Linked DNA regions of Homo sapiens: all the other regions are linked to region 1. The links come from fine-mapping of genetic effects on gene expression. A gene starts in region 1. Each other region holds a variant in brackets. All regions are shown on one strand. Distances are from middle to middle. Region 1 holds the start of SLC39A11 (solute carrier family 39 member 11). Region 2 overlaps SLC39A11 (solute carrier family 39 member 11). Region 3 overlaps SLC39A11 (solute carrier family 39 member 11). Region 4 overlaps SLC39A11 (solute carrier family 39 member 11). Region 5 holds the start of LOC107985005 (a long non-coding RNA gene). Region 6 overlaps SLC39A11 (solute carrier family 39 member 11). Region 7 has its middle 31 kb from the start of SLC39A11.

Evidence for each region. PIP is the estimated chance that this variant, and not a neighbour inherited with it, causes the effect. A credible set is the group of variants that fine-mapping cannot tell apart.
Region 2: its variant is the best candidate, but not a certain one, in a credible set for the expression of SLC39A11 in cerebellum (GTEx, PIP 0.77).
Region 3: its variant is the best candidate, but not a certain one, in a credible set for the expression of SLC39A11 in whole blood (INTERVAL, PIP 0.85).
Region 4: its variant is the best candidate, but not a certain one, in a credible set for the expression of SLC39A11 in nasal epithelium (TOPMed, PIP 0.75).
Region 5: its variant is the best candidate, but not a certain one, in a credible set for the expression of SLC39A11 in sun-exposed skin (GTEx, PIP 0.89).
Region 6: its variant is the best candidate, but not a certain one, in a credible set for the expression of SLC39A11 in B cells (Fairfax 2012, PIP 0.77).
Region 7: its variant is the best candidate, but not a certain one, in a credible set for the expression of SLC39A11 in neutrophils (BLUEPRINT, PIP 0.73).

The regions. Positions count from the first base shown.
Region 1 is chr17:73,090,164-73,094,263 of GRCh38, reverse strand. SLC39A11 (solute carrier family 39 member 11) reads left to right here and starts at 1,576. Exons shown (of 10, transcript NM_139177.4): 1 at 1,576-1,653. RefSeq lists a silencer at 2,416-2,647 and an enhancer at 3,618-4,100.
Region 2 is chr17:73,030,088-73,034,187 of GRCh38, reverse strand. SLC39A11 (solute carrier family 39 member 11) reads left to right here. Exons shown (of 10, transcript NM_139177.4): 4 at 2,474-2,632. Among named protein-coding and RNA genes, the nearest start is that of SLC39A11, 61 kb to the left of the region's middle. The variant T/C (reference allele first, on the strand shown) is at 1,824.
Region 3 is chr17:72,644,727-72,648,826 of GRCh38, reverse strand. It overlaps SLC39A11 (solute carrier family 39 member 11), which reads left to right. Exons shown (of 10, transcript NM_139177.4): 9 at 1-24; 10 at 1,165-2,878. The coding sequence ends at 1,243. Among named protein-coding and RNA genes, the nearest start is that of LINC00511, 6.3 kb to the right of the region's middle. The variant G/C (reference allele first, on the strand shown) is at 2,176.
Region 4 is chr17:72,693,665-72,697,764 of GRCh38, reverse strand. All of the region lies in intron 7 of SLC39A11 (solute carrier family 39 member 11), which reads left to right. Among named protein-coding and RNA genes, the nearest start is that of LINC00511, 55 kb to the right of the region's middle. The variant T/C (reference allele first, on the strand shown) is at 1,695.
Region 5 is chr17:72,625,695-72,629,794 of GRCh38, reverse strand. The region is part of intron 2 of LINC00511 (long intergenic non-protein coding RNA 511); the gene reads left to right. LOC107985005 (a long non-coding RNA gene) reads right to left here and starts at 163. Exons shown (of 3, transcript XR_001752991.2): 1 at 1-163. It also overlaps the pseudogene RPL32P33. The variant A/G (reference allele first, on the strand shown) is at 1,654.
Region 6 is chr17:72,713,859-72,717,958 of GRCh38, reverse strand. The region is part of intron 7 of SLC39A11 (solute carrier family 39 member 11); the gene reads left to right. Among named protein-coding and RNA genes, the nearest start is that of LINC00511, 75 kb to the right of the region's middle. The variant G/A (reference allele first, on the strand shown) is at 2,544.
Region 7 is chr17:73,122,102-73,126,201 of GRCh38, reverse strand. No RefSeq gene overlaps it. Among named protein-coding and RNA genes, the nearest start is that of SLC39A11, 31 kb to the right of the region's middle. The variant A/G (reference allele first, on the strand shown) is at 1,647.

The DNA.
Region 1 (4,100 bases):
CATGGAGTGCTTGGTATATGGTGCGACCGTCAGTGTGAACAACCTAGTTCCACTGGAAGAAAGAGGCCTGTTATTGGACCCTTTGGGCTATGGCCATCGAGACCACGGGTAGCTTTTCTGCTCAGGTCACGCTCTGATATGTTGTCAAATAAAACACAGGACACTCAGCTGGGTTTCAGTTTCAGATCAACAACAAATATGCCTGTAACATAAGTATGTCCCACACATTGCCCGGGGCATATTTATAGTAATAAATGACGTTATTTTTCTGAAATTCAAATTTAATCAGGCTTTTTTTTTTTTTTTTGAGATGGAGTTTTGCTCTGTTGCCCAGGCTGGAGTGCAGTGGCGTGATCTTGGCTCACTGCAAGCTCGGCCTCTCGGGTTCACGCCATTCTCCTGCCTCAGACTCCCGAGTAGCTGGGACTACAGGCGCCTGCCACCACGCCCAGCTAATTTTTTGTATTTTTAGTAGAGACGGGGTTTCACCGTATTAGCCAGGATGGTCTCGATCTCCAGACGTTGTGATCTGCCCGCCTCGGCCTCCCAAAGTGCTGGGATTATAGGCGTGAGCCACAGCGCCCAGCCCAGGCATCTTGTTTCTATCTATTTATTTATTTTGTTTTGTTTTTGGCTAAATCTAGTCAATCCTATCCTCTGGTCTTTTCACAGAAATCCTGCAGATCAAAGCCTTTGACCTAGGGCAGTGCTTTTCAAAGGGTGGTCCCAGGACAGCAGCATCAGCAACTCCTAGCTCAAAACAAGATCTCAGGCCAGGCGCGGTGGCTCATGCCTATAATCCAGCACTTTGGGAGGCCCACACGAGTGGATCATTTGAGGTCAGGGGTTCGAGGCCAGCCTGGGCAACGTGGTGAAACCCCGTCCCTACTAAAAAAAAAAAAAAAAAAAAAAAAAAACAAAAATTAGCGGGGCTTGGCAGCATGCACCTGTGATCCCAGCTACTCGGGAGGCTGAAGCAGGAGAATCGCTTGAACATAGGAGGCAGAGGCTGCAATCACCCGAGATTGGGCCACGGCACTCCAGCCTGGGCGAAAGAGCGAGACTCCATCTCAAAAAAACAAAAGCAAAAACAAAAAAATCCCAAAATGTCAGCCCCACCCAGAATGACGGAACCAGAGCCTCTGGGGGTGCTGGCATTTTGTGTTTGACCCCCTCCAGTGATTCTTTTGAGGGTCATTGACTGGAGAATGATGCCGATGCCATCACATTACCCGCCCCCAGCCTCTCCCGCAACACACACACAGCACATCCTGCTCTGCTGCGCACCCAGTGGCATGGACCTGGCTGCCAAAGGTGTAGAAGCATAAGTAACATCAGGGGTGTTACAAAGGGCTCTTTCCTTGGGTGTTTGTAGCTTCCCTTAGGGCTGCAGTCACTCGCAGACTGCTGGGCTCTTGGCCTCAGGGCTCTGTTCTGCCCGCCCAGATCTGTTCCTGAGCCTGCAGACGGCTGTGAACCAGAGAATCTATTCTTCAGGCGGGAGTTGCCAGTTGCGGCCAAGGGGGCGGGGCCCGGAGGCGGGAGGGCCACGTGTGCGGGAGGGAAGCAGGAAGTGACTGCGGGAGTGGAGCCGGCGAGAGAGTGGCAGCGGGGGCTGATGGAAGTGCAGTGGGGGCTGGAGAGGGCACCCTAGTGAGTTGGCTTTTCTCTCCTTCGGTGCCTTTGGTTGGGCTCGAGGCCCGGGGTCGGAGGCCATCAGGACAAGAGTGTGGGACTTGGAAGGGCAGCCACCTGGAGCTTGGAAGGGGGTACGCCTGGAGAGAGGAGGGGTTTGGAGGAGAAATTGGAGGCTTTGGCAGGTGTCGGGGCGGGGTGGGAGGGTGAGGGGCGGTGGGAAGGAAGTCCCCGGACCCCGGCTATGTCCCTCTCCAGGGTGATCTGGAAGGCAATGACATGCCTTCCTTTTACAGTCCTAACCCAAATCCTCTTCGTTCGTCCCTTCCTAGGCGGTGTGTGGGGGTACCCGGGATTCCTGGGAGCAGAGGCAGCTACAAATCCAGCTGCTCCCAGGCCCCTCCCACTTGCTCTGGCTGTTAGCTGGACCTCTGGAACTTGACTGGGAATCTGGTTAACTTGCAGCAGGTCTGGGTGGGGCGTGACAGTGTGCATTTCTAACTAATTCCCAGGTTGGGTGGTCCGCGGACCACGCTTTGAGTAGCGAGGCATTAGAGAACTTTTCCACAGTCCTCTCCGCCCAGACCTGAATCCTTCTGCTGGATTCCCCCTCGTGGAGTTAGGGCATGTGTGTGCAGCTCCACTAAGGCCCAGCAGCCCTAGTGCTGTTTCCACTTCTGCAACTTCACCAGCCTCTTGAACTGACTCTTGGAAGCGGAACAACAGGTTTAAAAGGGGGAGAAAGGAAATAAAGAAAACAAACCTGTATCAATCAGCCGGGAATGCCCATGTGCTGCTGTGGCAGGTGTGTACAAGTCTACAGGCTGTTGGCATGTTAAAAGTTGGAACGGTCAGAGAATGATTCTCCCTGCTGCTAACGAATCAGGGTTGATGGAATTAATATCCCCATCGTGAGGAATTCTGAGCCCCATTGTGTAAGCTGTGATGGAGATGCTGTGTCCTAAAGTTGTTACTGGTCTGCCGGTTAGAGAAAACTTCTTGTTCTCTTGGGACTCTGCCAGAAACTTTTTCTTCTCTTGAGACTCTGCAGAAAACTTTCTGTTCTTTTGGGACTCTTCTTTGCTCTTGCCAATCCCACATGGGGCAGGAGAACTCATTTTCTAAGCTCTTGGTATTGTAGAAGTTTTACCAGTTTTATTTATTTATTTATTTTTATTTTTTTTTGAGACAGAGCCTTGCTCTGTCACCCGGACTGGAGTGCAGTGGCGCGATCTCGGCTCACTGCAACCTCCGCCTCCCGGGTTCAAGCGATTACTCCTGCCTCAGCCTCCCGAGTAGCTGGGACTACAGGCACTGGGACTACAGGCACACACCACGACGCCCAAGTAATTTTTGTGTTTTTAGTAGAGATGGGGTTTCACCGTGTTGGCCAGGCTGGTCTCGAACTCCTGACCTCAGGTGATCTGCCCGTCTTGGCCTCCCAAGGTGCTGGGATTACAGGCATGAGCCACTGCGCCTGGCCAAGTTTTACCAGTTTTAATCTTTTGCTTTCCACAGTTTAATGTGCATAAGAATCCCCCATGGAATTCCACAAAATGCAGACCCTGATTCAGAAAGTCTGGGGTGAGACCTGAGTTTCTGCATTCCTAACTAGCTCCCAAGCCGGACCAGTGCTGCTGGTTCTCTGACCACCCTTGTAGCGAGGATTTAAAACAGCAAATAGAGAAGAAACTTCTCCGAGGGGCACTGGGCTTGCATTGCCCGTGATCAATGCTGCTCCTGTTGGGATGGAAAGGATGGTGGCCTCGGTCTTCCCTCTGTGTCCCTTTTTCTTACTCAGGAGGGTGCTCAGATATACATGGGGACAGGCTTAGACGGGTGTTTCCCTATCCCACTAACCACCAGGAACACCCACGAGCTCCCTCTGTTCTGTTCACCAGCCCACAAGATCCACATTGACTTTGGCCTGTTGGCAAATGTAAATTGTTTGCTCTCTTCTGTAGCTGTCAAGAGGCACATTCAAATACAGGAAAGAAAGGTGTTTTTGTTATGCCCTGTCTTGGATGATAAGTACTAAGAGGATGATCCCTTTGTGCTGTTCTTTGTAAATGCTGTTTGAAATTTTGTCCACAGCAACTCGGAATAGATGATTGGTGTAATGGTCCAGATGGCTTGGTTTAAAAACAAAGACCAACCCCTCTTTTTAGGGTGGCTTAGCAAGATGACGGATGTAAAGGGTAGTAGTTTTTTGAAAATGATTTTTTTTTTCTTTAATTGGCGTGGTCACAGTTTTCACAGTTGGTGCAGTTCGTTTAGAGTGCGGGAACTAGAGTCTGATTCCATAGATGCTATTTATCTCAGAGTTTCTGGCACAGGGGCTGAGCCAGGGCTCACCTGGGCTCACCTGGACCTATACCCTTCCTAGGTTTGAGCCTGGGTGTGTTGCTGAGCCGCTTGGCATAAGGGCTGCGTCCACACTCTGCCATGGTTTCCTTCCAGGGTCA
Region 2 (4,100 bases), 60 kb after region 1:
TTCGATGGGGAGTTTACCATGCAGGGCAGCTACTGAGGGCTGTTGAATTCTAAAGCTAGTAAGACAAAGTCTGGAAAAGGGGTGGATTAGGCTGTAGCAGGGAGGGGGAGCCCTCACATTTCCTTTGATGGTCTTTATTGACAGCCCGGCTCATGGAGTTGAACGGATCAGCCTCAGCTCCCATCCTGTTGAGCAGAGGCATTTTCATTCTTAGAGTTTTGGAGGCTTTTGCAGGTTTCCATGGGTGGCACTAAGACTTTTGCTGGGAGAATTTGGCCCAGAGCAAGTGACTGTGCATGTTTGACAGCTGGAAGAAGGGAATTTATGGATTTATGCTTGGATTTGTTCTTTATTGTTGCTGTTGTAATACCTGCTTCTGTCACTCTGAGTGTTATTTTGAAGATGGGTGATGCAGATGATTTTTTAAGGCAAGGCATAATTAAGTAATTTTTAGAAACCCATTCAACATTTTCTGTGTCGGCGATGACTGCCGTATAGTTACGATGGGTGGTGGGTGTACTCTAGCCAAAAGATGTCATAGCATCTGTAAGAGTAAACAGCCATGGATGAGTGTTTAGTTTGGTCAGTGCTGGAGAGCTTCTTATTTTTAAGAGGCAGAGTCTCGCTATGTTGCCCAGGCTGGCCTTGAACTCCTGGGCTCAAGGCTCCCCAGTAGCTAGGACTACAGTCATGCACCACTGCGCCAGCTCATCTCCAGCAACTATAGTCATGCACCACTGTGCCAGCTCATCTGCTGGAGAACCTTTTATTGAATTGACTTTGCTGAGATTTGAGACTAGCCTAATTTTTTTTCTTCTCCTTCATGTTTCTACCGTCATTGAGTTGGTTATGGTCCTGCTTGGTCATTTCCCTGGATCTGCTACTTACTGCCTATGGCAGAGGTCCCCAATCCCCGGGCCATGGACCAGTGCTGATCCATGGCCTGTTAGGAACCAGGCCGCACAGCAGGTGAGCAGCGGACAAGTGAGTGAGGATTACCGCGGGAGCTCCGCCTCCTGTCAGACCAGTGGCGACATTAGATTCTCATAGGAACGTGAACCCTATTGTGAACTGTACATGCCACGGATCTAGGTTGTGAGCTCCTTATGAGACTCTAATGCCCGATGATCTGAGGTGGAACTGTTTCATCCCAAAACCACTGCCTGGTCCGTGGAAAGATGGTCTTCCATGAAACTGGCCCCTGGTGCCCAAAGGATTGGGGACCGCTGGCCTGTAGGACCATGAGCAAATTACCTTATTATTTCAAGATCCAATTTCTTTATCTACAAATCGCAATAGAAAACATCATCTGCCTCTGGGGTGGTTGTGATGAAAAGATAAGATATCAAATGTAAATCTTGGCCCTTGGAAATACCAAGTGATCAATAAATATTAGTTCCCTTCGTCCTTTTTAGAGATAATTGATGAGACCAATATGACGTTGACTTGCTGGTTATCTTCAGATATTTCAGAGGCTGTCACATATCACACAGGAGGGACACAGTTTTTGGTGTTCTAGGGAGCAAAACCACAGCTAAAAGGTAAAAGTGGAAAGGAGACAGATTTCAGCTCAACATAAGAAAGAACTTTGTAATAATTAGACCTGTGTTACAATACAGTGGAACTCGTGAAGTAGTGAGCAATTTGTCTTGGAAGAATTTAATTAAAATAGGATTTTTTGGGCTGGGCATGGTGGCTCACACCTTTAATCCCAGCACTTTGGGAGGCCGAGGTGGGTGGGTCACCTGAGTTCAAGAGTTTGAGACCAGCCTGGCCAATATGGCAAAATCCCATCTCTAAAAAATACAGAAAAATTAGCTGGC[T/C]GTGGTGGCACACACCCATAATCCCAGCTACTCAGGAGGCTGAGGCAGGAAAATCACTTGAACCCGGGAGGTGGAGGTTGCAGTGAGCCAAGATTGTGCCACTGCACTCCAGCCTGGGTGACAGAGAAAGTCTCCATCTCAGAAAAAAAAAAAAAAAGAATAGGAATTCGCAACAGCATTCTCATTGACATTTGGGGCCAGATAATTCTTTGTTGTCAGGGGTGTGCTGTGCATTGTAGGTTGTTTACCAGCATGCTTGGCCTCACTCATTAGATGCCAGTAGCAACCTCCCCCTACGCTCCTCCCAGTGTGACAGCTAAAAATGTCTCTAGTCATTGCCAAATGTCCTGTGGAGGGCAAAACCATTGCTGGTTGAGAACCACTGAATTATAGGCTAGATGATGGCGAACTGGACTGCATCCTCCCAAGGTCAACTCTATCCTACCCAAAATTGAGTTCTTGCAATAGTAAGCTCCGGGAATTCTGGGGATGGCTTTTTGGTTTCTGATAGTACCTCCCAACCTGGGACGAAAGACTGAACTCATGTGAAATTGTAGGGGTCAATCTGGGCCACAGAGAGCAACTGAGGTCCTGCCTGGAAAGCCTTCTGCAGTTGCTTTAACGTTTATCTCTCGTTGTGGTTTTTGTAGGTCATGTTGGCAGCTTCCTATTGGTCTCTTCTGGCCCCAGCAGTTGAGATGGCCACGTCCTCTGGGGGCTTCGGTGCCTTTGCCTTCTTCCCTGTGGCTGTTGGCTTCACCCTTGGAGCGGCTTTTGTCTACTTGGCTGACCTCCTGATGCCTCACTTGGTGAGTACCACTCTACTTTTAGCTGTCGTATCGGGATACAACCAGCTCTGTGCAATGAATTTATTTCTGATCAAACCTGACATACCTGTTAATGTCTCTGTTAAGTAGCCAGTGGTATTTAAACAGAGAACAAGGCATTAGAGGAACTGATCGGTGATTTCTTTCTTAAAGTAATGTCTTGGTAATTACCCCCTTATTTACATTTTAGTAAGTTCGGATTTTGAATGTCACATTTCATTAAAAATATAGAGTACAGCTGATGTGCTGGGTGGCACTGTATATATATGAGAGGACCTAGAACGATCACTGTGGTGCTGGGTTTTATTGAGAGTATGACATCATCAGGGAGATGATACTCCCGCCCCACCCCCACAATCTGTAGCATTAGGCCTTTGACCATGGATCACATTATGAGGGCTGACAGGAGGGTGAGGCAGGGCTCTGTGCAGCAGGGGTCTGGGCTGGAGCTCACACCTGCCATTTACTGATTGTATATCCCTGAGCTCTAGTTTTCCATCCTTTAATTTGAGGATAACTCCCCCGAAGGACTGTACAGTAAAATTTTAAAAATGTAAAAATGCACTGGAATTGGGGATAAGCCAGAGATTTCAGGCTTTTTTACTGACATATGGCAGGAGAGCTGGATTTGGGAATGAGCATGTATGTGCTTACAGGGAAGCACCGTGCAAACCGCAGCCTGGCATGTGGCTGTGATCACCGAGCCAAGAGAGCTGGGGCCAGGTCATGCGATGGGAACCGCAAGCCATTGGCTAAAGCCCTGTCATCTGCATGCACCACTGTCAGTAGAGGAAAGGGGTCCAAGATCATAACAGCATGAGACAGCCTTACCAGACACTGGGCCCGACAAGTTCTAGAGATGGCAGAAGCACCCCTGAACTGGTGCCAGAGTTCCCTGCTCCCCTAGAAAGGGAAGTGGTGCAGGGAGAACTCTCTGGAGAGAAATGGGTCAAAGTCCATTTCTCCTGCTGGATCACGGTGAGACAGGATTAAGTCAGACTCACTGGAGTCAGTGGTCATGTACCCCGGGAGGTAGGTAGGTTGAAGTTCTCTTCCCTGCCTTCCTGCTTTCTTTTTTCCTTAACTTCCCAAGTGGAGAAAGAGAAGGAATGATGGGTGATTCTGTAACTATAACGATTCCCAGGAACTATGCCTCTAGGTCCTGGGCTAATGTAAAACAGATTCCTTGTGTTACAGAAGAACTGTCCTTTGGATCAGACAGCTGAATGTGATGTTGGACGGCTGTGATACTGTCTTAAAGCAGAGGTCCCCAACCCCCCAGACCAAGGACCGCTACTGGTCAATGGCTTGTTAGGAGCTGGGCCACATAGCAGGAGGTGGGCAGCCAGCTGCCAAGTGAGCTTTATCTTCTGAGCTCCGCCTCCTGTCAGATCAGCCGTGGCATTAGATTCTCAATGGAGCACAAACCCTGCTGCGAGCTGCGCATGTG
Region 3 (4,100 bases), 450 kb after region 1:
CATCATCCCCGAAGCCCAGATCAGGTTGGAGAACCTTCCCTCCCTGTCTGTCCCTGTCCCAGTCCCAGCTGGGACCCCAGCCTTGGGATATGCTCTTTCTTCATTTGCCTTTCCTTTCCTTATTCCCTCCCCCTCTCTGCCCCTTCCCAAGATCATCCCCACTGCCTCCTCAACTGTGCTCTCTGAAACTAAAAGAAAAGAAGCTAAGGGCATGTGGGTCAAGAAATGAGGTGACACCAGGCAGTGGCATACACACCTGCCCCCCGTCCCTTGATGCAGTAGACTATCGTTTTTGTATATTCTCTCTCATCCTGTCTCTCGATTCTCGGGCTGGAATGAAGGGAGAGGTGAGCTCTAAAATGTCAGTGAAGGTGATACATGCATGTCTTCACTGGCTAGCTATAGGCCAGGTGTCAGAAGGTGGGAGTAAGGGTTTGCTTTGTTCCATTTTGTTGTTGTTTTGTTTTGTTTTGTTTTTCTTTTTTTTTTTTTTTTTAATGGCAGAGTCTCGCTCTGTCACCCAGGCTGGAGTGCAGTGGTGTGATCTCGGCTCACTGCAACCTCCGCCCCCCAGGTTCAAGTGATTCTCATGCCTCAGCCTCCCAAGTAGCTGGGACTACAGGCAACCACCACTACGCCCAGCTAATTTTTGTATTTATAGTAGAGACGGGGTTTCGCCATGTTAGCCAGGCTGGTCTCAAACTCCTGACCTCAGGTGATCTGCCTGCCTCGGCCTCTCAAAGTGCTGGGATTACAGGCTTGAGCCACTGCTCCCAGCCTATTTTGGTTTTTATAGAAGAATAACTCTGAGGCTAGTTTAAAAGGCCAGATTAAGTAATATCTTTAAGAAATAATCACCCCTCTTCATTACTCACACATGGACCACAGAACGATCATAGGTGACCTTGGGCAAGTAACTTCTCTTTGCCTCAGTTTCCCCACCAGTAAAATGAGGATAATTATGATACTGACCTCATGAGGTTGTTGTTTGGGGTTCCATGGTTCATTAGTTTGCCTGGCACATAGTAAGCCCCAGTAAATGTTACCATTATTAATGGTAGTGTGCTTTCTCTTGGAATTGGACATTGCAGAGGATGCCTTCAGCCTAGCCGTGGCCTCAGGGATCATTAAGGTCTTACTTTTCTTCCTGTCCTTCTCTTCCAGTGGTAATGGGAAACTGGCATCCTGGGCCTCCATCCTGGGATTTGTAGTGATGATGTCACTGGACGTTGGCCTGGGCTAGGGCTGAGACGCTTCGGACCCCGGGAAAGGCCATACGAAGAAACAGCAGTGGTTGGCTTCTATGGGACAACAAGCTTCTTTCTTCACATTAAAACTTTTTTCCTTCCTCTCTTCTTCATCTCATTATCCTGATTGACTCTGATTATAATAGAACCATTTTTACTTTGCTTTGAGGGAGATTTTTGATTTAATGGGGAATTTTAAGGTGTCATGGAAATACAGATTCTTTGTTTTGGCCACTGAATGGACTCTCTCTTCAGTGGGATTATCAAGGAACTTCAGATCAGGGAAATCTCCACTTCGGGACCTTCTATCTGCCTCCCAACTCCTCAAGGTCACCTATAGAAGCGAGCTACCAAAAGACGTCTCCTAAGCATTTTGGTGGCCTAGTGACTCAGGGCAGAGTGGCCAGCACACCTCTCATCCGCCCCTCCTGCTCCATCACTGCTGAGCCTCTCCCCATCTAGAATGTTGGAACTGGAGCATCATAAAGATAGCAAGCTACCTTCCAAGGCCGAGCCAGCCCAGAGAGGAGCATGTCTTCCTTTACCTCCCCCTAAGGAGATACTACATGGGAGGGGGACACAGAAAAAGGGAAGGAAATTGGCTAGTCTGGCTTTTTTTTTTTTTTTTTTTAAAGGCAAAGATTGACATTATTGAAGGAAAGGGGATGAGGACAACTGTGAACTCACAGTGAGCCCTGTGGAAAGAAGAGACAGACAGAGTGTGGGTTTGTTCGGAGGCCTCTGCTGTCAATGGATTCCAGGAGCAAGGCCATTTGTCGCGCTTTCCAAATTTCTTAGGCATTTATTTTGATAAGTTTATAGCCATCATGTTTCTAAGAGACTTGGAGACACCAGCAAACTGCTAGAACTCAAACTCTTCAATTACTCAAAGAAGGAGCCATTTCAGTTAACTCAAGTGAATGAAAGA[G/C]TTTTGGAATCTGCTGTGGGTCCTTCCCTGTTGACCATTTGGTAACTTATAATCTGACAAAAACTCTTGAGCTGCAACAGGCCTTGCCAGAGGGCTCAGGATGGGAAAGGAAGAAGGGGATAGGAAAAGAAGAGGTAATTTTACATTTCCCCTTTAAAGTAAATTTTAGCCAACTCATCATTCTGAAATGTCCCTATAAAGAATGAGTCGAACTAGACCAGAAGCCAGCCTACTCCTTCTTACATAGCTTCTCCAACAGGGGTAGCAATGACCTGTCCACTTCAAACACAGATAAGGCCTGCCATCCTCATTGGTTAAAGGCACACGTGAGACTTTCAGTGGGCTCTGCTGAGAAGGAAGGCAGCCCAGGAGTCAGGTATGCAGGCATTGCATTGTCAGTGTCTGCTCTCAGAGTTTACACATTCAATTGCTTCCAAGGGTGAATCTCCTGCTCTGTGAATGCTATCAGACCCCAAAGGCCAACCTTGGGCTGGGTCTATGTACGTTCTTCCGAAGCACTGATGATCAAAATTGAAGACACATTCAGAGGTTTGATTGGTTGAGATTAACTGGTGTGGTGGTTGGTGTATGTATGTTTTATTTTTATGTCTTTGTATGTAGTTCTACATAATGCAAATTGTGCTTTCTGATGGACAAGACCTCATAACTGTGATTAATATCAATAAAAAGGGGATGTTGTGGATGACCTGTGTTACGTTCAGTACTTCTCAAAGCTGCTTCTTTGCAAGGATGATCATAAAAGAGCTAACTAAAGTTGGAACTAACACCTCCCTGATCCAACACTAGGAGAGGCAAAGGAAAGAGCTCAGATGGGAAGGGCTAGTCAGATTCTTGGTTGCAACAACAGCATCCAACAGCAGCTTACTTAAACAGAAAAGGAAATGAGTGGAAGCCTGTTAGGGAATTCACAGGCTCTTTCGGAGAATCGGGCTTGAAAATGGGTTGGATCCAAGAAAGCCAGAGGTCTGGGGCCATGACCCAATCACACCTGGAGAACAGCTTGGTTTAGATGCCATGGTCCCCAGAGCTGGTCCCTAGATCCTGGACACCACTAATGAAACTGCTGTACCTTGATGCCACCACCACTGCCGCCACAAGAACAAACTCTACACTGAGCTGGATTCTTTGTGTCCTGGCTCCACATTCGAAGTTCTAGATCAGAACATCCAGCTGCCAGAGCTTAGATCCTGTGCCCATGAACTAGCTGATCTTGCCCCTTCCCAAGACTCGCAAAATAGTGGATTTTCCAAATTTGGGAATGAGTTCATATGGTGCAGAGCCAAAATAGAAAAAAAAAAAAGGGTCTATTAAGTTCATTACAGCCTTACTCTTTTGCTGTTCAATATCAACATATACTCTAATTCCTCTAGTTTTACTTAAAGAAAAAACTCTTGCTTAAAATATGTAGCTATTCCTCATACAATCAAAACTTCTTTCATTCCCTTTCCAACGGGGTTACCCCAATGTCTTTCAACTCCTGTACTCAAGGTCTGTGAGTAATGGATACCCCACCTCCGTGGGATAACAAGCCCATCTCATTATTCTGTATCTTTGAGCTGAAGTGTAAAGTTAACCATAACCGTTCATCCCATATACAATAAAACGAATAACGGGAGAGGAAAGAGAGGCAATGAGTTAAAATAGGATACACACAACACAGGAAGTACAAGTAGAAGCTACAGCACCCATTTCCTGCCCTAGAGAAGAGACCCTGGATGATGTTTAGGTTTCCCGCTTCCAGTTTCCATTCCAAGTCCATGCTGTCTTCAGCCAGTACCTTAGATGACTGGGGTGTGACCTACTAGCCGTGACCCTATTCCTCTTTCCTAAGGGCACAGAGACCAAGGAGGCCCTGCCCATATGCATGATGGTAACAGTCTTCCCTTAACTCCCACCGCTGGAGG
Region 4 (4,100 bases), 400 kb after region 1:
ATCATGAGGGTCGGGGCGGGGGTGGGGGGTTCTGCTCTGAGGGGGACAGAATGGAGCAGAGGTCATGGTCCCTGCCAGGGGATATGACTCAGTGTTTCTCAGAGGGAGGACTTAGCTGCCACTGGTGATCTGATTTTCAGAGCAACCCAGGGATTTGCACTGTGGCATAGCGAGCTCATTGTTTGGAACACTTGGATTTTGGGCTTCGTTGAGATGGTGTGGTGGTGATGGGCACTGATGGAGATTGTGGGAGATTGGGTGAGACAGAGCCTCTCCCCAGAGCCTCCACCCTCTGTCCCTGATCTTACTGGGAGCAAATTGAAGATAGACACCTTCATCTGGGGATAATCAGGAAAGTTTTTGCAATAAAATGAAATATGTGCCAGGGGCTTGGTGGCTCACACCTGTAATCCCAGCACTTTGGGAGGCCAAGGTGGGCAGATCACTTGAGTTCAGGAGTTCGAGACCAGCCTGGGCAACATGGCGAAACCCCATCTCTACAAAAAATACAAAAATTAGCCAGAAGTGGTGGCGTGCACTTGTAGTCCCAACTACTCAGGAGGCTGACATGGGGGGATCACCTGATCTCTCGAGTTCCAGGTTGCAGCGAGCTGTGATCAGACCACTGCACTCCAGCCTGGGGGACGAGTGAGATCCTGTCTCAAAAAAAGAAAAAGAATAAGAAATATGTAAAAGTATTTTGCAAAGCCGTGAAAATGAAACGTCTGGTGTTATGGCTATTAGCAGAAAGAAACAAGAACATTGTGGGCAGAATGTAGTAGAACACATTGGGCCCAGACACATAATCAGCAGTCTCGGGCCAGGGTCCTAAGTTCTGTCTATAAAACGCAGCTGCTGAAGCGTATCTCATGAGGCGCTTGTAACCGCAAGCTGATCATACAGGCCAAGCCTCTAGCACAGAGCAGGACACATAGCAGGGCTCAAAAATGGTAGGCAGTAACAATGTCACAATTGTATTTTTTTATAATATGATTTATAATACACTTTATAACATAATTATTAAAAGCAGGTTCATAAAGGTGCTAAAAACAGGTGAGTAGGTCTGTGTGGATACATTGGAAGTTCCCTGGTGGGGTGTGGCAGTAGATTGGAAGAAAATTTATATGGAAATCAGAGAGATAGGGGGCCCTGAATGCTTCTCTGAGGAGCGTGGGTCTCATATGTCAGACAGCAGACAACACCTGGGCGCTTTTGAGCGAGATGGGAATGGTGAGGAGAGTCCATTAAGCCCAGCGGAACAGGAACAGACTCCGGGATCAGATCTCGGTTTAAACATGGAAGAGTCACTTACCCTCCCTGAGCCTGGCTTCTTTGATCTTAGAATGGGGATTAGTATTAGCCACGTCCCCTCTTGCAGCTGTCCTGGTAGGTACCTTGTAAATGGCGACTGCTATTATTTGTGCTTAGAAGGATCATCCCTCCTGTGGGGTGGAGGACAGGGGAAGGAGCAAGTAGACTCAGAGGCCGGGGTAAGGAGCCAGGTGGGGACTCAGGCTTTGCCATGCTTTCCGATCTCCACCTTGGACCGCAACTGAAATGCCAACTCCTGCCTTCCCCTCCCCCTGCCCCATGACTCCCAATCCCACCTGTTTCCTTCCGAGATCTTCACAAGCTGTAATTATATACACTTTTTTCCTCGCTTAATTATTGTCTGTCTCTCCTTGCAGACTCTT[T/C]GCCCCATAGCGGGGTCTGTTTCACCACGCCCAGCATCCAGGTGTGGTGGTGCCTGCCCCTGCATTAGTCTCCTGTGGCTGCCTAACAAATTACCACAAACTGGGTGGCTTAGAACAGCAGAAGTTGATTCTCTCACACTTCCCAAGGACAGAAGTTGGAAATCAAGGTGCCAGCAGATAGCTGTGCTCTCTGCAGGCTCTGGAAGGAGGACCCTTCCTTGCTGCTTTCCAGCTCCTGGTGGCTGCAGGCATCCTTTGGCTGGTGGCCGCATCATTCCGGTCTCTGTCTCTGCCTTCACTTCACGCAGCCTTCCTCCTCCTCTCCTCTGTGGGTCTCTCCTCTGGTTGTCTTTTCTAAGGACACTCGTCATTGAATTCAGGGCCCACCTAGATAATCTAGAATGATCTTATCTCTACCTCCTGAAGTTAATTACATCCACAAAGACCCTTTTTTTTGTAAATAAATCATATTCCTAGGTTCTAGGACATGGCTATCTTTTGGGGACTACCATGCAACCCTCTGCACCCTCTTCTGTGTGAGATTTCTCCCAAAGGAAAGAAGTTTTCAGTCTATGGCCATAATGCCCAGTTAGTACTTGGATGGGAGAAATATTCAGCAATAACAGCTTGCCAGGAAGCACCCAGGGGGTGCAGCGCCCTGTTTTAGGCACAGAATCCAGCTGGCTGCAGCCCAGGCAGCTCCTTCCCTCATGGAGCTTATTCCCTGGATGAGCAGATGCATGTGGACATGTCAGGCTGTGGATACTACGTGCCGGGAAGAAAAACTCAAGCCAGGAATGGCTCAAAACTCCTGAGAACATGATAGGGAGGAGTGGGGGTAGAGAGGGTTCTGTTTGAGGAGGAGACACTGAGGCAGAGACCCAATCAAGGGAGGGACAGAGGCCTCTGGGAGATGAGGTCAGAGTAACTCAAAACAGACTTCCCGTTTCTACCCTTCTTGGCATTTCTGACCTTTGTGTACCCCATTCCCTTGATTTCCAAAGAGAACCAAGGAACTGCATACCAGCAGAAAGAAAGGGGCAGCTGCTTCTTAAAGGGAGGAGATCACAAAAGAAGGGTCAAGGGAAGGTCTATGCTCAACTAAGGGCAGCCATGCCCACAGCACCTGCCTGGCCTCGGTCCAGAAAGATGGAGTGAGAGACAGAGACTCTCCCGGGGAGGAAATATCGTAATGGATGTCCATGGAGGCCACCAGCATCTCCAGTTCACAGAGCCAGGACAGGAGCATCTGCAAGGCAAAGTAGCCTGGGATGACAGTCAGCAGACCCCAGCCCCAGGTCTTCTCTCTGGTGGCCCAGGGTTTGTCAAAGGGAAAATGCTATTTTGGATTGTGGTAGACGGACCCTGAGGGGACCACCCCACCCTGCCCACAAGGTTCCTCCACCTTCGTATTCAAGTTTTGTCCGTCATCTTCTGGCCACCATTCCTTAGCTTGCCGTGGAACCACTGGAGGTGACCCAAAAGGAATTTCCAAACCAGCCCTGCTACAAAACAAGTCCCGCAGTGGTTGGGGCAATGGAGGGGAGCCCCACAGAGCCGCCCTGCAGACAGCTGCACAGTGGCGAGCAGCTGAGATCCGGGTATCGTGATGTCTGAGACCAAGGAGACAGTTCTTCCAAAGTCTCTGAAACAGGAGCCAGAGAAGGAAGCCACGATGGGTACCAGGGCTCGGGGAGGTATCCTAAGGAGCCAATTCTAGCTCTCCTTCCTGAAGTTTAATAAAGAAGAAAATCACATGAGCTCAGAATGAAGCACCATCTTTGGTTTTCATTTACATGTTCCACAGCCCGGTGGCAACCTCACAGTGGATTTTGTGAGACCCCCTTCTCAGGAGTCCCCATGCTCAGCAGAGCCAGCATGAGAGAGGGCTCGGGCCACCCTGCCTCACCCACCGCTGGCTCCACTTCCCCAAGACTGTGTCTGCCAGCCATGCTGCAAGCTGGGAAGCCCAGCACAACCTCCTCTATCTTCCTCCTCTTCTTCCTCTGGGACTCCCTCAGTCCAGCCCCAGACTGAGCAAGGAGAGGACTCTGTCCCCTCGGGAGAGTCAGGGCAGGGAGGTGGGTGCTTTTTCTATAAAGAGCTGGGGGCTGGGCTCGGTGGCTCACCCCTGTGGTCCCGGCACTTTGGGAGGCCGAGGCGGGTGGATCACGAGGTCAGAAATTCGAGACCAGCCTGGCCAACATAGTGAAACCCCGTCTCTACTAAAAACACAAAAAATTAGCCAGGCGTGGTGGTGGGCGCCTGTAATTCCAGCTGCTTGGGAGGCTGAGGCAGGAGAATCGCTTGAATCTGGGAGGCAGAGGTTGGAGTGAGCCGAGATTGCGCCATTGTACTCCAGATTGAGGAGTGGCATGGCCATTTGTCCTCCAGGAAGTTGATTGT
Region 5 (4,100 bases), 460 kb after region 1:
TGGCCTCTAGAAGCTGGAAGAGATAAAAAAACAAATTCTCCCCTGGAGCCTCCAGAAAAGCACTTGGCCCTGCCAAGGACACCTTGATTTTAGCCCAGTGAGACCCACTTCAGACTTCTGACCTCTAGAACTGTAAGATAATACATTTGCTTTGTTTTAAACCACTCTTCATGGTTATTTATTACAACAGCAATAGGAAACTAATATACCAACCTAAAAACTGTATTTCCCAGCCCATTGTAGCTACAGGGCGACACAATTCTGGCCAAGGAGACAAAAGCAGTAGCCTGCTGATAATTTTTCTAAGAAAGTTTTGTTTTTCTGAGGTAGAGGCTGTTCTTTTCTCATTTGCTGCATTCTTCTTCCTGCCTGGAATACAGATGAAAAGCTAGAGATGGGACAGCCACCATAGCACCATGAGGCAAGCATGAGGATGGAGTCTGTACACCAGCTTTGGTAATACAAGACAGACAGTCAGCACTGGGCACATTGGGATATCACGAAACTGTTGCGTTGTGACTGCTCCCACCGGACTTTTGTATTTGAGCACAATAAATGTCTCTTTGCTCATGGATCTGTTTTATGCCACCCTAGGCAATCCCTGAATGAAATACTCTGCTGCCAGGCTCTCCCAAATCTTCCTTTTTCTTGATTTACTCCCTCATTCTGATGGAGCATATCCTTCCATAGTTTTCTGTGGAGGAAAATTTTTTGAGAACTTGCATATTCTAAAATGTTTTTGTCACACTTGATTGATAGTTTGTTTGCTACAGACGTTTAGGTGGAAAATCAGTTTATCTTAGAAATCTGATATTATTGCTCCATTACCTTCTCATCTTGTGTGTTGCTATTGAGTTGTTCCATACTCTTCAGATTCCTTCTCTTTTGTATATGAAATTTCTCTCTCTCTCTCTCTTTCCCTGTCTCTCCTTTCCTCACCTCCTACTTCCCTCCTTTGAAGGTTATTTTATGTCTAATGAGCTGAAGTTTCATGACACAGGGTCTTGGTATGGGTCTCTTTTCAGTCATTGAACTGGGCCCCTGATCATCTATTTCAATATGGAAACTCATGTTCACTTTCTTATTTATTTCACAATTTCCTTTCCTCAATTTTTTTCTGTTCTTCTTTTGGAATTCTTATTTGTTGGATCTTGGAACCCCTGGTTTGATCTTCTTTTTCATCATTCTGTCTTACTGTTTCTCTTAAGGAATAAGAGAAACTTAGTAATTTTTAAAAGCTCTAGTTGCCATAAAATTCCTTCTTGTGGCCTTCTGTTCTTCTTTCCTGAAGGCAATTCTTTCTTCTGTCTATCCAGGGATAATAATGAAAGGAGGTCACCGTTTTTCTTTTTTTTTCTCTTTTGCTCCCTATTTTCTCCAGGTTTCTTTCTCCTTCCCTGCTCCCACCACCCCCACTGCCCCACACTATTTTCTTATTTTAGTCTCTGTCTTTCCTACTGGGAATTTTCTCCGACTGCCTGATGATGCTTGCCTCATTGAATGCTCTGGATGTAGGGGTGGAGGTGGATGGGACCAGAGAGCTGGTAAATCTCGCTGTAGGGCACTTAGAGAGAGACTCCACTTTTCACTGGAGACTCTTAAATATCACTATGTTTAGGGTTTTCTCTTGGGATGATCTATCTTACCACAGAG[A/G]AATCCAGACCGTTCTCATGGGTGGATTGTAAGTTGGTCTCTAACATTTGAAGAGCAAACTAGGTGAAGGGGCATGTAGACATTTCTTTTTTACCCCTGTCTTCTGGTCCTTGTGCTGCCCCTGCCCTATGCAGTCTCCACATCTGGACTCTCCCTGGTTCAGTTTTGTCTCCTGTTGTGGCGGATGAGGAGTTGCTTGGTGCACAGGGCAGGGATGTGCTGGGGATCCGGGAGCTCCGGTAGCTTGGTACAGATTCTCAAGGAAGCCTGCTGTTCCCTGCCCCATTGCACACACTGCTTTGGGAGACAATAGGTGACTCCATCCAATTCCTTGCATCCTGGTGTGTCAAGGTGTGGGTCGGCTACCTTGCATGGCCTCTTCCTCTGTAGTCAGTTGTGCTTCACCTTTTTTTAATCAGCTAAATCAGTTGCTGACACTTTTTTTTTCTTCTTTTTTTTTCAGGCAGTTTTTATGGTTTTGTTTAAACACAAATAAGACATGCACGTGAGCTGTGTATTCCTGTTCTTCGCTGTGCAGCCTGGCCTTGGGGTTGGTGGCTCTGAGAGCAGCTGGGCTACTCTTTCCATGATGGCTTTGCCATTTTTGGAGGAAACATTGTGAGCCATCTCAGCACAGTAAGATTTGTTGCACATCGGCAGCACTTCTAACCCCCTGACATTGTGGACCAGGAACTTCCGGAAGCCACTGGGCGGCATGTGCTTTGTTTTTTTGTTACTCCTATAACTAATGTTGAGCAGCCCTTGAACTTTCTATGAACCCTGTTGTCAGTACCTCTGGGTTTCTGCCATTTACACTTAATTTTGACATATGGATCTGACTGGTGCCAGATGAACTTCTTGGTTCTGTTTTTCACAATCCTGGGCTTCACGAGGGGTCTGAGGGTAGCCACGACGCTGAGTAGGAGATGGCTGCCACCTCCGTAGGCAGCGCCAAGGAAGAGAGAAGAGAGAGCTGCTGACTTTCAAAACCCTCTCATGTCCTCTCATCTCTCATTCTCCTTGTATTTCTGACTTTTTTTTATCTTTTAATTTTGTTTACTATCATTTCAGGGGCTTAGGGAAGGAGTGGAAAGGATCATGTTGTATTAAGCCATTCAAGCGTTGCTATAAAGAAATATCTGAGACTGTAATTTATAAAGAAAAGAGGTTTAATGGGCTCATGGTTCTGCAGGCTATACAGGAAGCGTGGTGCTGGCATTTACTCAGCTTCTGGGGAGGCCTCAGGAAGCTTACAATCATGGCAGAAGGTGAAGGGAAGCAGTCACGTCACATGGCCAGAGCAGAAGCAAGAGAGCACGGGTGGGGGGATGCTGCACACACTTAAACGACCAGAACTCATAAGACCTCACTCACTATCATGAGGACAGTACCAAGGGGGACAGTGCTAGACCATTCATGAGAAACCCACCCCCATGATCCAATCACCTCCCACCAGGCCCCACCCCTGACACTGGGGAATTACAATTTAATGTGAGATTGGAGTGGGGGCACACATGCATACTTCGTCTACCACGTTGAACTGGAAGCCTTCCTGATCTTTAATGGCCTATTATTCCAGTAACACTCCAGTAGCCCAGGCCCAACAAATCCCTGTATTTCACTGGTAGAAACTGAAGCTTTGTAATATTTAAAGTAGCTACTGACACATAACAAATATTTGGTTGATTACTCTGGGCCCACAAATATTAATTACTGTATATTATGTGTCATATGCAGGAGATATGAAAATAAGTAAGGCAAAGTTGCTGCTGTTAGGTAAAGAACAAGGAGTGTGAGTGAATTATTGAGTGTGTTATCTTGTGTATTCCTCAAATAAAGTTTTCAAAGAGGTTAGATAAAGTTTAAAGGCATGAGAAAACTCTTCTGGGTTTCCCTCCTGAAAGTGACAGTGGCCTGGAATTTAAACCCAGGTCTGGGTGACTCCACAGCCAATATGAACCATGCTGTTTTTATTGCACTGACTCTTTCCAGACCTGACAGCTCATGGCTCAGCTCAGAGTCTTCACATTTAGCCTTTGATGTCTCTGCCTTTCTTAGCTTATTTTTGTCCTCATGCTGCCCCTCAGGCTTCCGTGGCTCTGTAAATCATGTCTGATATGATTTGGCTGTGACCCCACCCAAATCTCATCTTGAATTGTAGTTCCCATAATCCCCACGTGTCATGGGAAGGGCCTGGTAGGAAGTAATTGAATCACGGAGGCTGTTTCCGCCATGATGTTCTCATAATAGTGAGTAAGTTCCCATGAGATCTGATGGTTTTATCAGGGGCTTCCCCTTCGCTCACACTCATTCTTCTCTCTCCTGCCTCCATGTGAAGAAGGATGTGTTCGCTTCCCCTTCCGTCATGATTGCAAGTTTCCTGAGGCCTCCCCAGCCCTGCAGAACTGTGAATCAGTTAAACCTATTCCTTTATAAATTACCCAGTC
Region 6 (4,100 bases), 380 kb after region 1:
ATACCGGGGGCAGGAAGGGGGAAAGAAGGGAAAACTCCAGACAGGTGGTACTGAGGTGATCTGGTGGCCTTGCGGTCATGACTCACTTCTCCAGCCTCACCTCCTAGACAGCCGATGTGCAGGGTCACTCCGAGGGAGAGCTACAGAGCAAGAGTGACCTGTCCTGTAAGTTCCAGAATAAGGAGCGATGCTGAAGTCATGCACCCCAGAAAGGTATGGAAGTCTTAATCCCCAGGACCTGTGACTGTAACCTTATTTGGCGGTAGGATCTTTGCAGATGTAATTAGTTAAGATCAGCTCGTACTGGATTAGGGTGGGCCTAAGTCCAACATGACTGGGTACCCTTATAAAACAAGGAGGGATGACACATGCGGAGAGGACAGTGCCCCGTGGCCACACAGGGACACGTGGAGGGAAGACGGCCTTGTGGTAGTGGAGGCAGAGACTAGAGTCATGTGTCTAGAAGCTGGGGAATGCCACCAAGTGCCAGGGCCACCAGAAGCTGGAAGAGCCGAGGGAGGATCCTCCCCTAGAGCCTTCAGGGGGAGCATAGCCCTGCGGACAACTTGATCTTGGACTTCTGGCCTCCAGGGCTGTGAGAACAAATCCCTGTGGTACTTCATCACAGCAGCTGTTAAGAAACCAGGGCATCGGGTCTCCCTACCTCCATCGGCGTCTTCTCTGTCCCTGAGGTCCTCTCTTAGCTTTCTCCACTTCCTCTCACAGTTGGACGCAAAGCCCCAAGGCCACTTTTTTTTCCTCTTTTTAAATTTTTTAAAATTTTTATTTTTATATATATGTATATACATATATATACACATATAAGTATATACATATATACATATATACATACACATATAAGTATATACATATATACATATACTTATATGTGTATATATGTATATATGTGTATATATATTTTATATGTGTATATGTGTGTGTGTGTGTGTGTGTGTGTGTGTGTGTATATATATATATTTTTTTTTTTTTGAGACAGGGTCTCCCTCTGTTTCCCAGGGTGGAGTGCAGTGGCATCGTCTTGGCTCACTGTAACCTCCACCCCCTGAGTTCAAGCAATTCTCATGCCTCAGCCTCCTGAGTAGCTGGGATTACAGGCACCTGCCACCACGCCCAGCTAATTTTTGTATTTTTTGTAGAGATGGGGTTTTACCATGTTGGCCAGGTTGGTCTCAAACTCCTGTCCTCAAGTGATCCGCCCACCTCGATTTCCCAAAGTACTGGGATTACAGGCGTGAGCCACCACACCGGGCTCTGAGGCCACTTTTTCATCCATATTCTTCTCTGTGCCTCTGCATGTGTGTTCCCCATCCCTTTGGTAACTTCTATTTTTTATTTCAGGAGTGGGTTAAAGTTTCCGATTTTTTTTTTCCTTATACTCTCTCAGTTCAGTCTGGACCAACTTGGAGAAGAGCGGCGGCTTTCCCTCCCTTTTTCTGTGGCCGCCTTCAGACGCTGGCCCATGGGAGAGTCAGGGCTGTCCCCCGTATTGGAGCTATTAAACTGTCGTAAGAAAGGGGCCTTTGTCACGGGAAACACGTTACTCAGCTCAGTCATAGAGACAGACTGTGCCAGAAAACAAACAACAAAAAAAAAAAGGTTCAACCACAGCATTCTTTGGGACTTCAGTCATCCGCCTCCCGCTTGTTCTTAAAAGACGAATTTCCTTTCTTCCGTGTAATTCCATCAGATAGGTCGTCAGGTTTTCATTCTGTCCAGAATGGAGTGCTGGGGGCCCTACCCTGCCATCTGCCAGGGGCCTCTGCCCAACACCCCGCTTGTATGACCTCATGCCTGCAGGTTGGGAATGCAGGGGGGCTCCCTTGGGCCTTTTTGGGGTGGGTCAGGGAGGGTGCGAGGAGAACGAGGGCGGGAGTTAGGTATTTTTTCACACTTACCATGACCTGTCTGTGCACTTAAAAATTGATCAAGATGGTACATTTTGGCCGGGCACGGTGGCTCACGTCTGTAATCCCAACACTTTGGGAGGCTGAAGCGGGCGGATCACTTGAAGTCAAGAGTTCGAGTCCAGCCTGGCCAACATGGTGAAACCACGTCTCTACTCAAAATACAAAAATTACAGGTGGCACATGCCTGTAATCCCAGCTACTCAGGAGGCTGAGGCACGAGAATCGCTTGAACCCGGGTGGCGGAGGCTGCAGGGAGCCAAGATCACAGCACTGTACTCCAGCCTGGGTGACAGAGCGAGACTCCACCAAAAATCAAAAATAAAAAAAGATGGTACATGGTATGTTATGTATACATTAATCATTAGGCACTAACTCCCCATTCCTTATCTCCCCCCAGCCCCTGGCAACTGCCATTTTCTTTCTGTCTCTATGAATGTGACTCCTCTAGGGACCTCATAGAAGTGGCATCACACAGTATTTGTCCCTTTGTGTCCGTCCTATTTCACTTAGCATAATGTCCTCAGGGGTCATCATGTTGTAACGTGTCATAATTTTCTTCCTTTGAAGGCTGAACAATATTAGGTTGCACGGATGCATCATTTTGTTTGTTCATTC[G/A]TCTGTCCATGAACACTTGGGCTGTTTCACCATTTAGCTCTTGTGAATAGTGCTGCTTGTGAACATGAATGTAAGAATATCTCTTCAAGACCCCACTTGAGGTTCTTTGGGGTATATGGCCAGAAGAGGCATTGCTAAATCATTCGGTAATTTGATTTTTAATTTTTTGAAGAACTTAGTCATGGTGCATCTTATCTGCCTTGTAACATCGTGCCCTTGGGCAGAGGGGTACTTCCTGGAGGAGAGAGCCTCTCGCGGGCTCCCGGGGCCCCTTTCGTGGCTGGGTGCATGAGATGTATGCAGCCAACCCTTACCTCCTCCTGAGTGCAGACCCTGGGATGCTGCACTGGTCGCACACCCGTGGAGTTGGCCCTGAGTGAGAATAGACATCACGAGAGGAAAAATTGTGAGCGTGAAGGGGCTACATGGATGCAAGATGCGAGGTGAAGTGGTTTTGAATATGTACGTGTAAAGATCCTTGATTCCATGCTTTTCCACCAACTGCTGTTTAAACAAATGAACCTCTCACTATTAGCTTCACAAGTACGGCCACGTTCCTTCTTCAGCCAGGCAGGTGAAACACTCCATGAACCCAGATCTGAAACAGGGCAGTCCACAGGAGGTGAACAGCTGCAGACCATGTCATCCGCCTTCCTGACAGGTTTGGGGACAGCCCCATAATCACAAAAAGGTGGTGTTCTCTGGTCTTTACCAAGGAGGCTCAACACAGACACGGTGTGCAAACTCAAGCTCTTTCTCCTTGTTAAGGATCAGGTTCCTCATCTGTAAATGGGATTTCCTGAAGGGGTAAATGAAAGTGGAAGGAAAGCCCTTGGGTGGTACTGGTTGCGTAGCAGGCACTCAGCAGGAGGTGGATGTTGACACTGTCAGCAGCAGGGTTATGAACTTGGCTGCTGCGCTTCTTACCTGCTTCCTTCCTTTTTTGGCGACCCATTATTGAACAGTATTAGCCTGGTGCAAAAGTAATTGCAGTTTTTGCCATTTCATTGGCAAAAACCGCAATTATTATTATTTTTATTAATTTTTTTTTTGAGAGAGAGAGAAAGAGCCTTACTCTGTTACCCAGGCTGGAGTGCAGTGGCGTGATCTCAGCTCACTGCAACCTCCGCCTCCCAGGTTCAAGCGATCCTCCCGCCTCAGCCTCCCAAGTAGCTGGGAGTACAGGTGCGCACCACTACACCCAGCTAAGTTTTGTATTTTTAGTAGAGACGAGGTTTCACCATGTTGGCCAGGCTGGTCTCGAACTCCTGACTTCAGGTCATCCACCCGCCTCGGCCTCCCAAAGTGCTGGGATTACAGGCTTTAGCCACCGCGCCCGGCCTGAGCCACTGCACCCAGCCAAAACCCACAATTTTGCGGCAAACCTAATATCTATGCACGGCCTTTGTGGTGGACTGTAGATCTAAATTTGAGGTCCCTGACGTTATTATTTACCAGCTGGGTGAGCTTTGAAATGTCATTTCACTTCTCTGGGCCTCAGTTTGCTTTTTTAAAATCTGTATAATGGGCCTATGAATGGCTCCAGGGTCAAAGTGT
Region 7 (4,100 bases), 32 kb before region 1:
GCGCAAGCCTGTAATCTCAGCCCTTTGGGAGGCCAAGGTGGGCAGATCACGAGGTCAGGAGATTGAGACCATCCTGGCTAACACGGTGAAACCTCATCTCTACTAAAAACACACACAAAAAATTAGCCGGGCATGGTGGCGGGCGCCTGTAGTCCCAGCTACTCAGGAGGCTGAGGCAGGAGAATGGCATGAACCCGGGAGGTGGAGCTTGTAGTGAGCCGAGATCACGCCACTACACTCCAGCCTGGGTGACAGAGCAAGACTCCGTCTCAAAAAAAAAAAAAAAAAAAAAAGAAAGAGAATGTAGATTTCCAAGGGCTTGCTTCCATTTAGAATGGGGCAAAGATTCTGTGCTAAGAGCTTTACACGTACCCTTCATACATCACATCAGCACTATGAGTTTGCCCATTTTGTAGATGAAATGGAGGTACTAGTTAATAACAGGCAGAAGTATGCTAGAATCCTGGCCGTTGGACAGCGGGGCTCCTGTGCTGAACCACCGTTCCACCTGCCTTTCTGAGGATATGGCTGGTGCATTAGCACACAGGAGGGCCTCAACCACTGGGGGAAGATACCAGTGAGGTGCTATTTTTTACCTATCAGATTTGGGGGGAAAAAAGAATTCCAAGTCACTGGTAATGGAAGTGAAATTTGGAGAACGCTTTCAGGAGTGTAATTTGGCAATATCTATCAAAATGAAACATGCACACACCCTATGGCCCAGTTTGCATTTCTTGGAATGGGTCCTGTAGAAATACCTTCCTTGGTGCTTAAAGATAGGTGCCTAAGAATAGTCGTTAGAGGCTGGAATCGGTGGCTCATACCAACAATCCCAGCACTCTGGGAGGCCGAGGTGAGAGGATCGCTTGAGCCCAAGAGTTTGAGACCAGCCTGGGCAATGAAAAGAGACCTCATCTCTATTAAAAAAAAAAAAAAAAATTGGCCGGGCACAGTGGCTCACATCTGTAATCCCAGCACTTTGGGAGGCTGAGGTGGGTGAATCACTTGAGGTTAGGAGTTCAAGACCAGCCTGGCCAACATGGTGAAACCCTGTCTCTACTAAAAATACAAAAATTAGTTGGGTGTGGTGGCAGGTGCCTGTAATCCCAGCTACTTGGGAGGCTGAGGCAGGAGGATTGCTTGGGCCTGGGAGGCGGAGGTTGCAGTGAGCCGAGATCACGCCACTGCACTCCAGCCTGGGTGACAGAGCAAGACTCCATCTCAAAAAAAAAAAAAAAAAAAAAGAATCATTGTTAGAACATCAGACAACGCAAAAGATTAAAAACATCTTCAAAGTCCTTCGGGAGGGGACTGGCCAATTTTAACACAGCCCAGCTCCAAATGGAGCACCACAGACACGACAAAAAAGGAAGAGGGAGAGTGGTGTGAAGCCCCTTGGGAAAGTATCTATGATATGCCACTCAAGTGAAAAAGACAAGTTCCAGAGTAAGATCTATGTAATAAAAGATGATAGTATAATTTAGTAATTATATAATTAATGTAATTGTAGCTCACATAATTTTATCTATACTTATAAATTTACATTTCTTTAAGTACATATACAGAAATACATGTAACTAAATAATTAGAAGTTATATGTGTATATGTGTGCATACATTTGGGTGTATTTATATAGATATAAACGT[A/G]TGTATATGTATGTGTATGTATGTGTGTATACATCTATATCTATATATGTTTGCATATGACAGTAAAACATTTTAGAAGGAACTATCCAAGCTGTTTGCAGTGGTTACCTCTGTTGGTGAAGATAGAAGGAGGAGGATTTTACTTCATTTCAATTTTAATTTAATTTAATTTAATTTTACTTTTTGAGACAAGATCTTGCTCTGTTGCCTAACCTGGAGTGCAGTGGTGTGATCTCTGCTCACTGCAGCCTCCACCTCCTGGGCTCAAGTGATCCTCCTGCCTCAGTCTCCCAAGTAGCTGGGACTACAGGCACATGCCATCATGCTTGGCTAGTTTTTTAAACATTTTTTTTTTGTAGAGGCAGGGGTCTCACTATATTGCCCAGGCTGGTCTTGAACTCCTGAACTCAAGCAATCCCCCTGCATTGGTCTCCCAAAGTGCTGGGATTATAGGCATAAGCCATCACACCAAGCCTACTTTTTACCTTATATCCCTCATAAAAACAGGAAGGAAGGAAGAAGGGAGGGAGGAAGGGAAGGACGGAAGGAAGGCAGGAAGGGAGAGAGGGAATGGTGGGTTATGGGTGACTTTTCTTTCTCCTTTGTTCATTTTGGTATTTTCCAAACTGGAGAAGGAGGATGAGGCACAAAGTAGGAAGAATGAGCCCTGTGCGTAGACAGAGCCATTGTGCCCACAGGAAGCAGGGAGGCCCAAGGCTTCACGTTCTCGTCAGGGCACTCAAGCCTCAGCACACTCTGTGAGAGCGTGTTGAGAGTGGAGAGCTGAGAGAGGAGACCTAGTGGGTGGTGAGGGCCTGGGCTTGGTCAAAGGAGGAACGGTTGGAAAAACAGATTTTTAGGTGCAAGGAGGGAAGAGTTGCGGAGAGGACCTGAATGCTGCTTTTACATAAGAGGGAAAGGATTGATGAGACCTCAGAGGCAAAGCTAAAGCTACTGGGTAGCAATTCTCTGGAAAAAGACACCACACTTTTAATCGATGGGCAGTAGAGTCCCTGTTACAGGTCAGGTTTGGAAAGCGGTGGTGCTTCCACTGGTGGGTGATGTTGTGGTTCAGCCTTGGACTCAGAGAAGCTGACGCTCTGCTGTGCCTCTTCCTTGACATTTAAGGGATTTGTGGCCTCCTGCCACCAAGTGTTCCCAGGCCTGTTATTCGGGCTTTGTGCACTTTACACTTTTGTGCACAAACATTGCTTTGAGCATGGTAAAACATTAGCTATTATATGTAGTTTTTTAAAGGTCTTGAGATGGGTCAGGCATGGTGGCTCATGCCTGTATTCCCAGCACTTTAGGAGGCTGAGGCCAGTGGATTGCTTGAGCCCAGGAGTTTCACCACCCTGGGCAACATGATGAAACCCCATCTCTACAAAAAATACAAAAATTAGCTGGGTGTGGTGGTGCATGCCTGTAGTCCCAGCTACTAGGGAGGCTGAAGTGGGAGGATTGACTGAGCCCATGAGGTGGAGGCTGCAGTGAGCTGTGAGCACACCACTGCAGTCCAGCCTGGGCAGCAGAGTGAGACCCTGTCTCCAAAAAATAAAATAAAATAAAATAAAATAAGATAAGATAAAATAAAATAAATAGGTCTTGAGACCTCTCCCCTGTCCTTTCCATTCCTATCCCCAAGCTAGCCATTGGAGACTCTCTGGTCTAAGAGAGAGGGACATCTTTGAACCAATAAATTCACTGGCGAAGTTGGCAAATTTATTTATTGAGTGCCTACTCTGGATTTATTTCTTTAGGTGCTGGATATACCAGGCTGAACGATATCACCATTGTCTTCCTACTCTGGAGCTGACATGCTCATAGGGAAGACAGACCAAACAAACACCACAACCCCTTTCCCTGCCCCCCTACCATTGAAAACAAATAAATGAAATACCTACAAGTTATTTGTTTTCACACGCTGATCCCAAGATCCACATCCTTATCCATGACTCCTTCATTCGGTGAATGTTTAATGATCACCTCTGTTTAAAAGCAACCCCGTTGTGCAGGAGCCACCATCTTACTGATCCTCAAGTTCCTGAAGTTCATCCTGGCAGCAGGACTTTCTTATCATCTGATGCCCGAAGAGGGAGAAGGGACGGTCTCTCCTTCCAGGCTGGCGCTGGCTTCAGGAGGCCAGGCTGGCGGGCTGAGCCATTGTCGCTCTGTGAAACACATAGCTCCCTCCATAAACTTGCGTGATGTCAACCACCAGACTCATGTCTTGATTCCCTCTGGATTGGCTCTATCTTGCTGCAAAGCAATTATTTTAGTGTCTAGTCAATTCCTGTAAGATCATGCAGGAAGCTCAGCGCTCAGGCCCAAAGAAGGCATACAAGAAGAGAAAGAAATCTGACTGCCAGGAAGAATTGGGGCTGCTTATCATGTGGATGTCTTATCACTTTCTCTGTTTTCATGACTTAAGAACCCTGGGGGGCCAGGGGCTCA